2 linked regions of the Homo sapiens genome follow. The protein of the gene in region 2 purifies or fractionates together with the protein of the main gene of each other region. This does not show direct contact. Each region holds a gene or a part of one and is shown on either strand. Other genes may lie near its edges.

What was found. The genes of interacting proteins can lie anywhere in the genome.
Region 1: the proteins of PDHA1 (region 2) and RAB7A fractionate together in Homo sapiens (co-fractionation; 3 studies listed by BioGRID, with this or other methods). This does not show direct contact.

The regions. Positions count from the first base shown.
Region 1 is NC_000003.12:128,731,544-128,736,856, forward strand, and holds part of RAB7A (ras-related protein Rab-7a), read left to right. Parts: intron 1-5,313.
Region 2 is NC_000023.11:19,353,454-19,357,431, forward strand, and holds part of PDHA1 (pyruvate dehydrogenase E1 component subunit alpha, somatic form, mitochondrial isoform 1 precursor), read left to right. Parts: intron 1-1,037; coding exon 1,038-1,130; intron 1,131-1,895; coding exon 1,896-2,051; intron 2,052-2,232; coding exon 2,233-2,304; intron 2,305-3,978. UniProt on the Homo sapiens protein: The pyruvate dehydrogenase complex catalyzes the overall conversion of pyruvate to acetyl-CoA and CO(2), and thereby links the glycolytic pathway to the tricarboxylic cycle.

The DNA.
Region 1 (5,313 bases), on a different chromosome or scaffold from region 2:
CAACTGTTGTGTGTATCTGCCTGAAATAGCTGAGGCTGTATGCTCAGGTGGCTCAGCTGGAATGTCAGTCTAGGTCTGCTAACTCAGTTCAGTGCTCTTTCTGATGTACCATCCTGCCTTTCCATTATATGCTAGTGCCCTAAAGACCACGACATTTCACCCCTTGTAAAAGTGTATCTTTCGGCCGGGGGCGATGGCTCACACCTGTAATCCCAGCACTTTGGGAGGCCGAGGAGGGTGGATCACAGGGTCAAGAGATAGAGACCATCCTGGCCAACGTGGTGAAACCCCGTCTATACTAAAAATATAAAAATTAGCTGGGCATAGTGGCATGCACTGTAGTCCCAGCTATTCAGGAGGCTGAGGTAGTAGAATCGCTTGAACTGGGGAGGCGGAGCTTGCAGTGAGCCGGGATCGTGCCATTGCACTCCAGCCTGGCGACAGAGCAAGATTCCATCTCAAAAAAAAAAAAAAGTGTCTCTTTCTTCCACTACCTTTTTTTTTTTTCTCTCTCTGAGACAGAGTCAAGCTCTGTCGCCAGGCTGGAGTGCAGTAGCATGATCTCGGCTCACTGCAACCTCCGCCTCTCGGGTTCAAGCAATTCTCCTGCCTCAGCCTCCTGAGTAGCTGGGGCTACAGGTGCACGTCACCATGCCCAGCTAATTTTTGTATTTTTAGTATAGATGGGGTTTCACCATGTTGGCCAGGATGGTCTCAATCCCTTGACCCTGTGATCCGCCCGCCTTGGCCTCCCAAGGTGCTGGGATTACAGGCGTGAACCACCACGCCTGGCCCACTACCTTTTATTTAAAATGATACGTCTTTTTTGCTGATTATTAAACTATTCAGTTAAAAAAAAAAAGCTAGGAAAATTCAGAAATATAAAGAAGGAAAATTTGTGATTCACTACCCCGAGGAAGACCAAAGTGTTAACTGGTTATTTTCTTCCTTTGAATGTATACTTTCATACCTTCCTTTAATGAGATTGAACTCTTGGCCAGGCATGGTGGTCAGTACTTTGGGAGGAGTAATCCCAGCACTTTGGGAGGGTAAGGCAGGAGGATTGCTTGAGCCCAGGAGTTCAAGACCACCTTCAGCAACAAAGTAAGACTCCATCTCTACAAAGAAAAGAAAAAATTAGGTGGGTGTGGTGGTACACTTGTGGTTCCAGATGGTGGGAGGCTGAGACGGGAGGATCACTTGATTCCAGGAGTTTAAGGCTGCAGTGGTTTGTGTTCGTGGCACTGCACTCCAGCCTGGGTGGCAGAGCAAGACCCTGTCTCAAGAAAAAAGAAATTGAACTCTCCCCAAAAATGATGTGAGAATTTAACTGTGGAGGAGACCAGATACTCTTGGGTGATGTGACCTGTGATACTTCTCCTAGTAGACACTGAATGATGAGAAGCTGGGGATCATAGGAATAGCTGTATTTTTCAAATGTTTGTTGGTAACGAGTGAGGAACCTGATGCATCCAGCTCCAGAGTAAGGTTTATTTGCCATGGTAACACTGGATAAGTACATTGTTGCCTGTATTTCCAAGTAATTTATCATTTCTGTATTTTAGTAAACATACATATATACAGAAAAGTGCACAAATAAGTGGACGGCTTAGAGAATTTTTATAAACCCAGAGGCCCTCTTAGTCTCCTTTAAGTCATTATCATCGATGCCCTGATGCTTGCGTAGTGAGTCTTCTGATTTCTAGAACTGTAGACTAATTTTGCCTGATTTGGATTTTGTGTAAATGGAATCATACACTGTGTATTCTTGCGTATCTGGTTTCTTTGACTCAGTGTTGTTTGTGAGACTTTGTGTTGTTGTGTACAGTTGTAACTGGAGTTTCCATTGCTCAGTAGTATTATGTGATATATCATAATGTATTTAAGTAAAAAGACTGAGTTTTAGGGTATGTGTCTGTATTCATTTGCTAGGGCTGCCGTAACAAGTATCACAGATAGAGTGGCTTAAACAGAAATTTATTTTCTCAATTCTGAAGGTTAGAAATCTGAGGTCAAGCTGTCGGGAGGATTAGTTTCTTCTGAAGCCTCTCCTTGGTTTGTAAATGACTGTCTTCTCTTCCCTGTATCTTCACAGGATCTTTCCTCTGTATTGGCTGTGTCCTATTCTCCTTTTCTTTTAGGACACCAGTCGTATTGGATTGAGGCCCACCCTTATGACCTCACTTAACCTCAGTTACTTCTTTAAAGGCCCTGTCTGCAAATAAGTCACATTCTGATATATTGGGGATTAGAATTTCAACTTAAAAATTTTAGGTGGACACAGTTCACTTCATAAGAGTATCTATTCTGCTCTAGTAGATATGGCCAGTTTTCAAAAGTTGTACCAGCGTATTCTTCCACCAGCAGTATATAAGAAGTCCAAATATTCCACATCCTTGCTAGCACTTGTAACTTTTTCTCTCTAATTTTAGTTCCCTCTGGTAGAAAGCCATTTCTTTATGGCACCATGGTACAGCTTGTTTACTCACCAGTGTAGGGGAACCTCAAGGGACTGGGGAAGGTTATCCTGGAGTAAAACGTGTCAGTTTGAGACTACCTCTTGTAAATGCTACTTAAATCCATTGGGGTTAAAAGCAGAGGTTCGGCCAGGCACAGTGGCTCATGCCTGTAATCCCAGCACTTTGGGAGACCGAGGTGGGCGGATCACTTGAGGCCAGGAGTTCAAGACCAGCCTGGCCAACATAGCGAAACCCTGTGTCTACTGAAAATACAAAAAATTAGCCAGGCGTGGTGGTGGGCACTTGTAATTCCAGCTACTTGGGAGGCTGAGACATGACAATCGCTCGAACCTGGGAGGTGGATGTTGCATGAGAATCGCTTGAACCTGGGAGGTGGAGCTGAGATTTCACCACTGCACTCTAGCCTGGGCGACAGAATGAGACCCTACCTCAAAAAAAAAAAAAAAAAAAAAAAGGAAAGAAAAGAAAGAAAGGAAAACACCGCTTCAGTCCAGTGAATGAGCAGTTAGTCTTCCATAGTTGCCCATAGCTTACTTTTATAGTCTGGACTCCATTCCTGGTGGTGGAATTGGCCTGTGAAAGAGTAATCTGTGGGGTGTAGATCTAACCATAGTAGATGGTGCTTTCATTCCAACTCTCTTTTTTGGTCAGACACTTGAGCCCTTAGAATATCACATTCTATCGTACATATGCTAGAAATAGGTCTGTTTTGCATATTCTGACTGACCCTTCAGATATTAGTGGGCCTTTCACCACCAGCCTTTTGGCTGCGTGATCTTCAGCTTTGTGTATCCATTATAGACCTTAGTTTGATTGAAATAATATTACATGACTTTGCCTGTCTTCCAACTCTAAGCCACTTGAGGACAAGGATGAATCATTATTCTAGAATGGATCTTGAAATATTACTAAGCTTTTGTTTAAATTTTTTCCAGTTCTAGCTTTTCAGAGTAAGTTACCGTTTATAGCATGTAAGTTATGCTTCTGGGTCAGTGGTTAATATATGTGGGTTTCCTGAATGATGAACTATGTGTTCTGTGTTCATTTAACAGGTTTTTCTTCTCTACTATAAGAAAACACTGTTGGCCCCTGTGGAGAATTATTCAGGAATAATTGTAAATACAGGGCAGATGAGAGTTACTTAGTTTAGAGTTGTTCAATGCCTGGGGTGGTGAGGGGCATGTTGAGTGGATTTTTAAATAAATTGGTAGGCAGGTGAGAGTTGGGAAACCATTATAGTTGGAAAGAATGGCATAAGTCAATGAATGGATGTAGGGATTGCAGTAGCTCTAATTTGGGAATGACTGTATGTATGGAAACCAGATCCTGGTAGGGAGGGCAGGCACTGCAATCCCTTGTTAGAGGATTTAAGTTCAACCAAGTGGCACTTCACTCTGTAATGCTGGAATAGACACAGCATAATCCTGTCACTTGAACCTCACAATTAAGTCAGATAGTACCCCAGTTATGGGTGAGGAATGGCTTTGATGTTGTAATTTGTCTAAAGAAACCATACATTAAGAGCTTAGTGGGCTAGGATTGAAATACTACAAGAGTTGTGCTTAAACTTTCAGAGAGTTGCTTCTTCAGAAGTGGCTTTAATGAAAAGTTAAACATGGGAGCTGGTTAGGGGAGGTGGGATAGAGGAAGAGAGCAGTTAGTTTGGTTTTCCTCTTTAGCCAGCCCATTGTGGGCTCCTCTTAGCAATTTATGGGCAGTCTGTTTTACTGGTTAAATGCCTGAGATAATCTAGGGTTGATATCAAACTATCGAAGATAGTTCTTATGTAACTGTTTTACTAGCTATCTGCTTTCCAGTTTGCCTTACCAAAAAGAAAAAAAGGCAGGAATCATCCTGGTCTCTCGTTAGAGACTAAACTTTTGGCTTAGTACCTGGGTTCAGAAAGCTTGATGACAGTGGTGCATCGTATTGAAGAATCTATTGATCCAGGAGTGAAGTCCTCTTCACAAGAATTGCCTTCCAAGACACTCTTCTTTGTGTAAGTTGCCTTTGCCTTTTCCCTCCCAGCAGGAATGCAGTACTCAGAGCAAAGTACATAAACAATGTCTTTACATTTCATAGAGGTTGTTACCTTGTTTAAACTTCACAATTTAAGCAGCATTTGATTTGTCTCTTTTTTTTTTTTTAGATGAGGAAATGGACTAAAAGGTCATGCTCAGTATCTTGGAGCCACTGTGTGTTAGTGGGACTGGGACTAGCATCCAGTATTCCAAGTTGACAGATAATTCTTTAATAATGGCAGAAGAATAATAGCATCTTCTGCGGAAGAACAGCCTTTGTACATTTTATCATTCAGTTTTATTTAAATGTTTTTAAAAGAGGGATTTCAGACTAGTCTGTTTCTTTTGAAACATAGATTTTCAGGTGGTGAATCTTCAAGCACTATCAGACAGAATAAGCTAGGTTATGCTGTAGTAACCAATAACCTCAAAGTGGTCAAAAAGAGCATGGGTTTTCTAGAGGCTCTGCATCATTCTTACTCCAACCAAAGGAGCAGCCGTGATAGGAGTATTGATGGCTGTCTTGGCAAAGGGAAAAAGAACTGTTGGAGGCAGTTAAATTCCAGCACGTACAGTTTAAATCCAGCACATACAGATAAATTTAAATACTGTTAAATAAAGTTATTTAACAGTATTTAAATTTAAAAAAATTTAAATACAGTTGAATACAGTTAAATTCCAGCACAGGAATGACACATTATTTCATGTCACTTCTGCTTAGGGTTCATTGGCCAAAATGAGTCACACCACACAAGGAATCAAGTGTGATCCTACATGTGTGGACTTGGAAGGCACGGAGTTGGAAATATTTG
Region 2 (3,978 bases):
TGCAGGGTTGTAGCCTAGGAGCAGTAGGCTCTACTATACAGCCTAGGTGTGCAGTGGGCTGTACCATCTAGGTTCGTGCATTACAGTATGGTGTTCACATGACAAAATCGCCTAGTGATGCAATTCTGAGAATATATCCCTGTTGTTAAGTGACGCGTGACTATTTTGGGGGCTTGGTTTGCTTTTAAAGACCTAGTGCTTCATATCCTACCGTTTGAGAGATGAGTAGATTTGGATGGTGATTTATAATGTTTCCTTTTAGGTGTCTGCTGTTTTATAAGTAAGCAGGAACCTCTAGCAGTGGAGCCATACCTTCCCCTTCCTATTTATATTTCAGTACATTAATTGCTTTATCTTGTCAACTTCATTTTGGGGTCCTTGTTCTCATCAGTTAGTGAATGATGAAGAATTAACAGCACAAAATTATATCCGGACTGTTTCTTTTCCTTTCTAATATATTAAGATTCTATTATGTGTTGTTTTTTTTTAAACCTAGGTTTTATTTTTCCTTTTGAAATGGAGTCTTGCTCAGCCGCCCAGGCTGGAGCAGTGGTGTAATCTCAGCTCACTGCAACCTCCACCCCCGGGTTCAAGCAATTCTCCTGCCTCAGCCTCCCGAGTAGCTGGGAATATAGTTACGTGCCACCATGCCCAACCATTTTTTGTATTTTTAGTAGAGACGGGGTTTCACCATCTTGTCCAGGATGGTCTCGATCTGTGGACCTCGTGATCTGCCCAAAGTGCTGGGATTACAGGCGTGAGCCACCACGCCCGGCCAGGTTTTATTTTTTAACTCTTGAATGCAGAAATGTTAGTGCTTACTGGTTAAAATAGAACATAGTATTTATATATTACTTTAGTGCTTTATTGAAAATATCGGAGGTGGGATAAACAGAGAGATAGGGTTGGAAGGAGAGTTTGTAGCAGCAGTGTAATTTCTGTGTCAGATTCTGGCCAGGAGTGAAAATGCAGGGCATTAATTAGTATCTCCCCTCATGGATTTCTGTGGTTCCTTTCTCGGTTGTCCTTAATGTTAGGTGCCCCTGGGCGCTGGGATTGCTCTAGCCTGTAAGTATAATGGAAAAGATGAGGTCTGCCTGACTTTATATGGCGATGGTGCTGCTAACCAGGTAATTATGTCTCTTAACTTCCCAAAAACAGTCTTATTTTCAAAGTCTTTAATATTTACAGTTGAATTTCTAAAGAAGTAGCATATTGCTTATTAGGTGAAATAGCAAGTCCTATGGCTAGCTCAAATTTGGTTGACTTATGGCCAGATTAGAGATTGACCTCTTAGCGTTGTTTCACAAGAGACTTACGGGGGCACATTCCTGTGAAGGAGCTCACCTTTGCTCTACATCAGTGCTTGGCAAAGGCCCTGTGGTAAAGGACCTCCCCACAACCTATTGCAAAACAATACAGACCCATTCTCTTGGATGTCCGGGCTGGCAGTGTCAAATTCGGATAATAGCGTCTGAGTCCTAACTCAGTTTCTATGCTTCTCTTGTTACCGAGTAATCCCCAGTCTGTGGCCAGCACTCTGTGAAGCCCTGTTCTAGAGGCTGATTCTTAGGTGCTGGTTCACTCTGGCTATCCAGTGGGCCTGATAGATTTCATATTGATCTTTTTTCCAGTGTGTTCCTTACTGCTAGCATGGCCCCAAAGAAACAAGTAGTAGTTGGTTTGTCACCTTCCTTAGTTGCAAGAGTATGATGCCTGCTACTTCTCCTCCACCACCCACCCCGCTTTCCCTCACCACCCAAAGCTCGGTTTTAGAAGAGGAGGCTTTCTGTGCTTTATGAAAGCTTTCTGTGCCAGGCAGAGCAGCAGCTGTTAGAGATGATGAAGCCTGGAGAAAGAAGCCAAATGAAACCCCTTTTCGTAACTACTTCCAGGGCCAGATATTCGAAGCTTACAACATGGCAGCTTTGTGGAAATTACCTTGTATTTTCATCTGTGAGAATAATCGCTATGGAATGGGAACGTCTGTTGAGAGAGCGGCAGCCAGCACTGATTACTACAAGAGAGGCGATTTCATTCCTGGGCTGAGAGTAAGGACACCTGTGGTGGGGCCGGGGCCAAGGCCAAGGCCAAGGGTATGTCCTTGTGCAGACCCTTGACGATCTTAGAAACATTGGAGAGTTTCATTCTCATACAGGAGCAGGTCATGTGAAAGTAAAATGGTTTGGGGCAGTTGGATTCATGCTTCGCCCCTCCCCTGTTTATTACCAGGTGGATGGAATGGATATCCTGTGCGTCCGAGAGGCAACAAGGTTTGCTGCTGCCTATTGTAGATCTGGGAAGGTAAGGCTCTAAAGCCCTCTGGGCTAGTGACATTTATCTCTGGAAGTTCAAAGACTGCCTCCCATGTGCCTGCTGAAGCTGTTAGTGGGTACCTGCTAATTGAGGTGCATGAGATGGAAGCAGAGTGAAGGGAGCAGGGCTCCTTTGGGTAGCTTGGTCTTGGTAGCTCACCTGCTGGGAAGCCTACGTTTCTCTCATTTGGGGGAAGTCCGTTCTGGTGCTTCCTCTGCTTTGGCCTGTCTTCATGACAACTGATTTGCCTTTTCCTTAGGTTAATTCTGTCCCTCCTCCCCACCCCCCATTAATCATGAGTCCCTTGAAGGAACAGATTGGGGATCCCCACAGTGTCCAGCATAGAATGTCATGTATACAATAGGCATTTAATATGTGTGTCTTATACAAATTAAACAGTATGGTAGAAGCTCGTAATCTTAGTCTTGCTCAGTCCTAAGGATCTTTCCCTTTTCAGTGTATGGCAGTGAGGGAGATGGTAAGAGGGAGACTGGCCTAAAGAGGTTTCACTTCCTTTGGCACTAGTATAGGCTTAGGAGGTTTGGGTGTTCTCCCTAAATCAGTGTTCTACAGCCCAGAAACAAGGTTTCTGAAGTTGGCACTTCAGCGCCATACCATGTACGTTTAGGCAGTGATGTGAATCAGATGTGGCCAGCAATGATGGAAATGTCACAAAGTGGAGAGACAGGGAAGTGAGGGTGGGAATGTAGTAACATTAAATAAGAGCTAATGAGTAGAATGAACTAGAGCAGGACCAAGACTACAGCTTGGGTACAATGGGCTGAGCAGTCTATGTCAGGACCCTAAGGCTGGGAGTGCCAGGCCCTGAGTGATGGGTATTGACGCCACCTCTCCCAATTCCTGAAAAGAATACATGGGGGCCAGCCCTGGCTGGAGACAAGGGGAGTTGTAGAATGTAGTTGTAGAATGTGTGACTTTCCCAAACAGATAACCTTCACAATTCTGAGTTAGGTGTTATTGTTTTGCCCATTTTGCAGACAAGGAAACTGAGCCATAGAGCAGTTAAAGGTACACAGCTACTCTGTCTTGGAGCCAGCTCCCCACTCGCCCATTTTAACTGCTGCACCAAACCAACCAAGGATCCTCAATGTTTCTCCACCCCAGTGTTCAGAGCCGTCTCCTGGAAGTGGGCTAGTGTAGAATGAGCGAGCCCAACTGTCCAGACTCCCAGCAGAGCCTTGGGGTTTGGGTAGCAGAGGTTGTTGGTGCCTGCCAACTTTGTTACACACTAGCAAGGTCTGTGAAGTAGGAGTGGCTGCCAGCCCCACAACACACCATGAGAAAGGAGCATGAGATGGAAATCTGTCTAGCCAATAGCAGGAGGCTCTAGAACATGCTCAGAGCCTTTTTCTTTTTTCACAGGGTCTCGCGCAGTGGCACACTCACAGCTCACTGCACCCTTGACCTTCCAGAATCAGGTGATCCTCCCAAGTAGCTGGGACTACAGGCGCACGCCACCATGCCTGGCTAATTTTTGTATTTTTTGATAGAGATGGGGTTTTGCCATGTTGTCCAGGCTAGTCTCGAACTCCTGGGCGCAAGTGCTCTGCCCACCTCAGCTTCCCAAAGTGCTGGGATTACAGGCATGAGCCACCATGCCTGGCCTTCAAAGCCTTTTTGATTCAAAACAAGCTGTTGGCA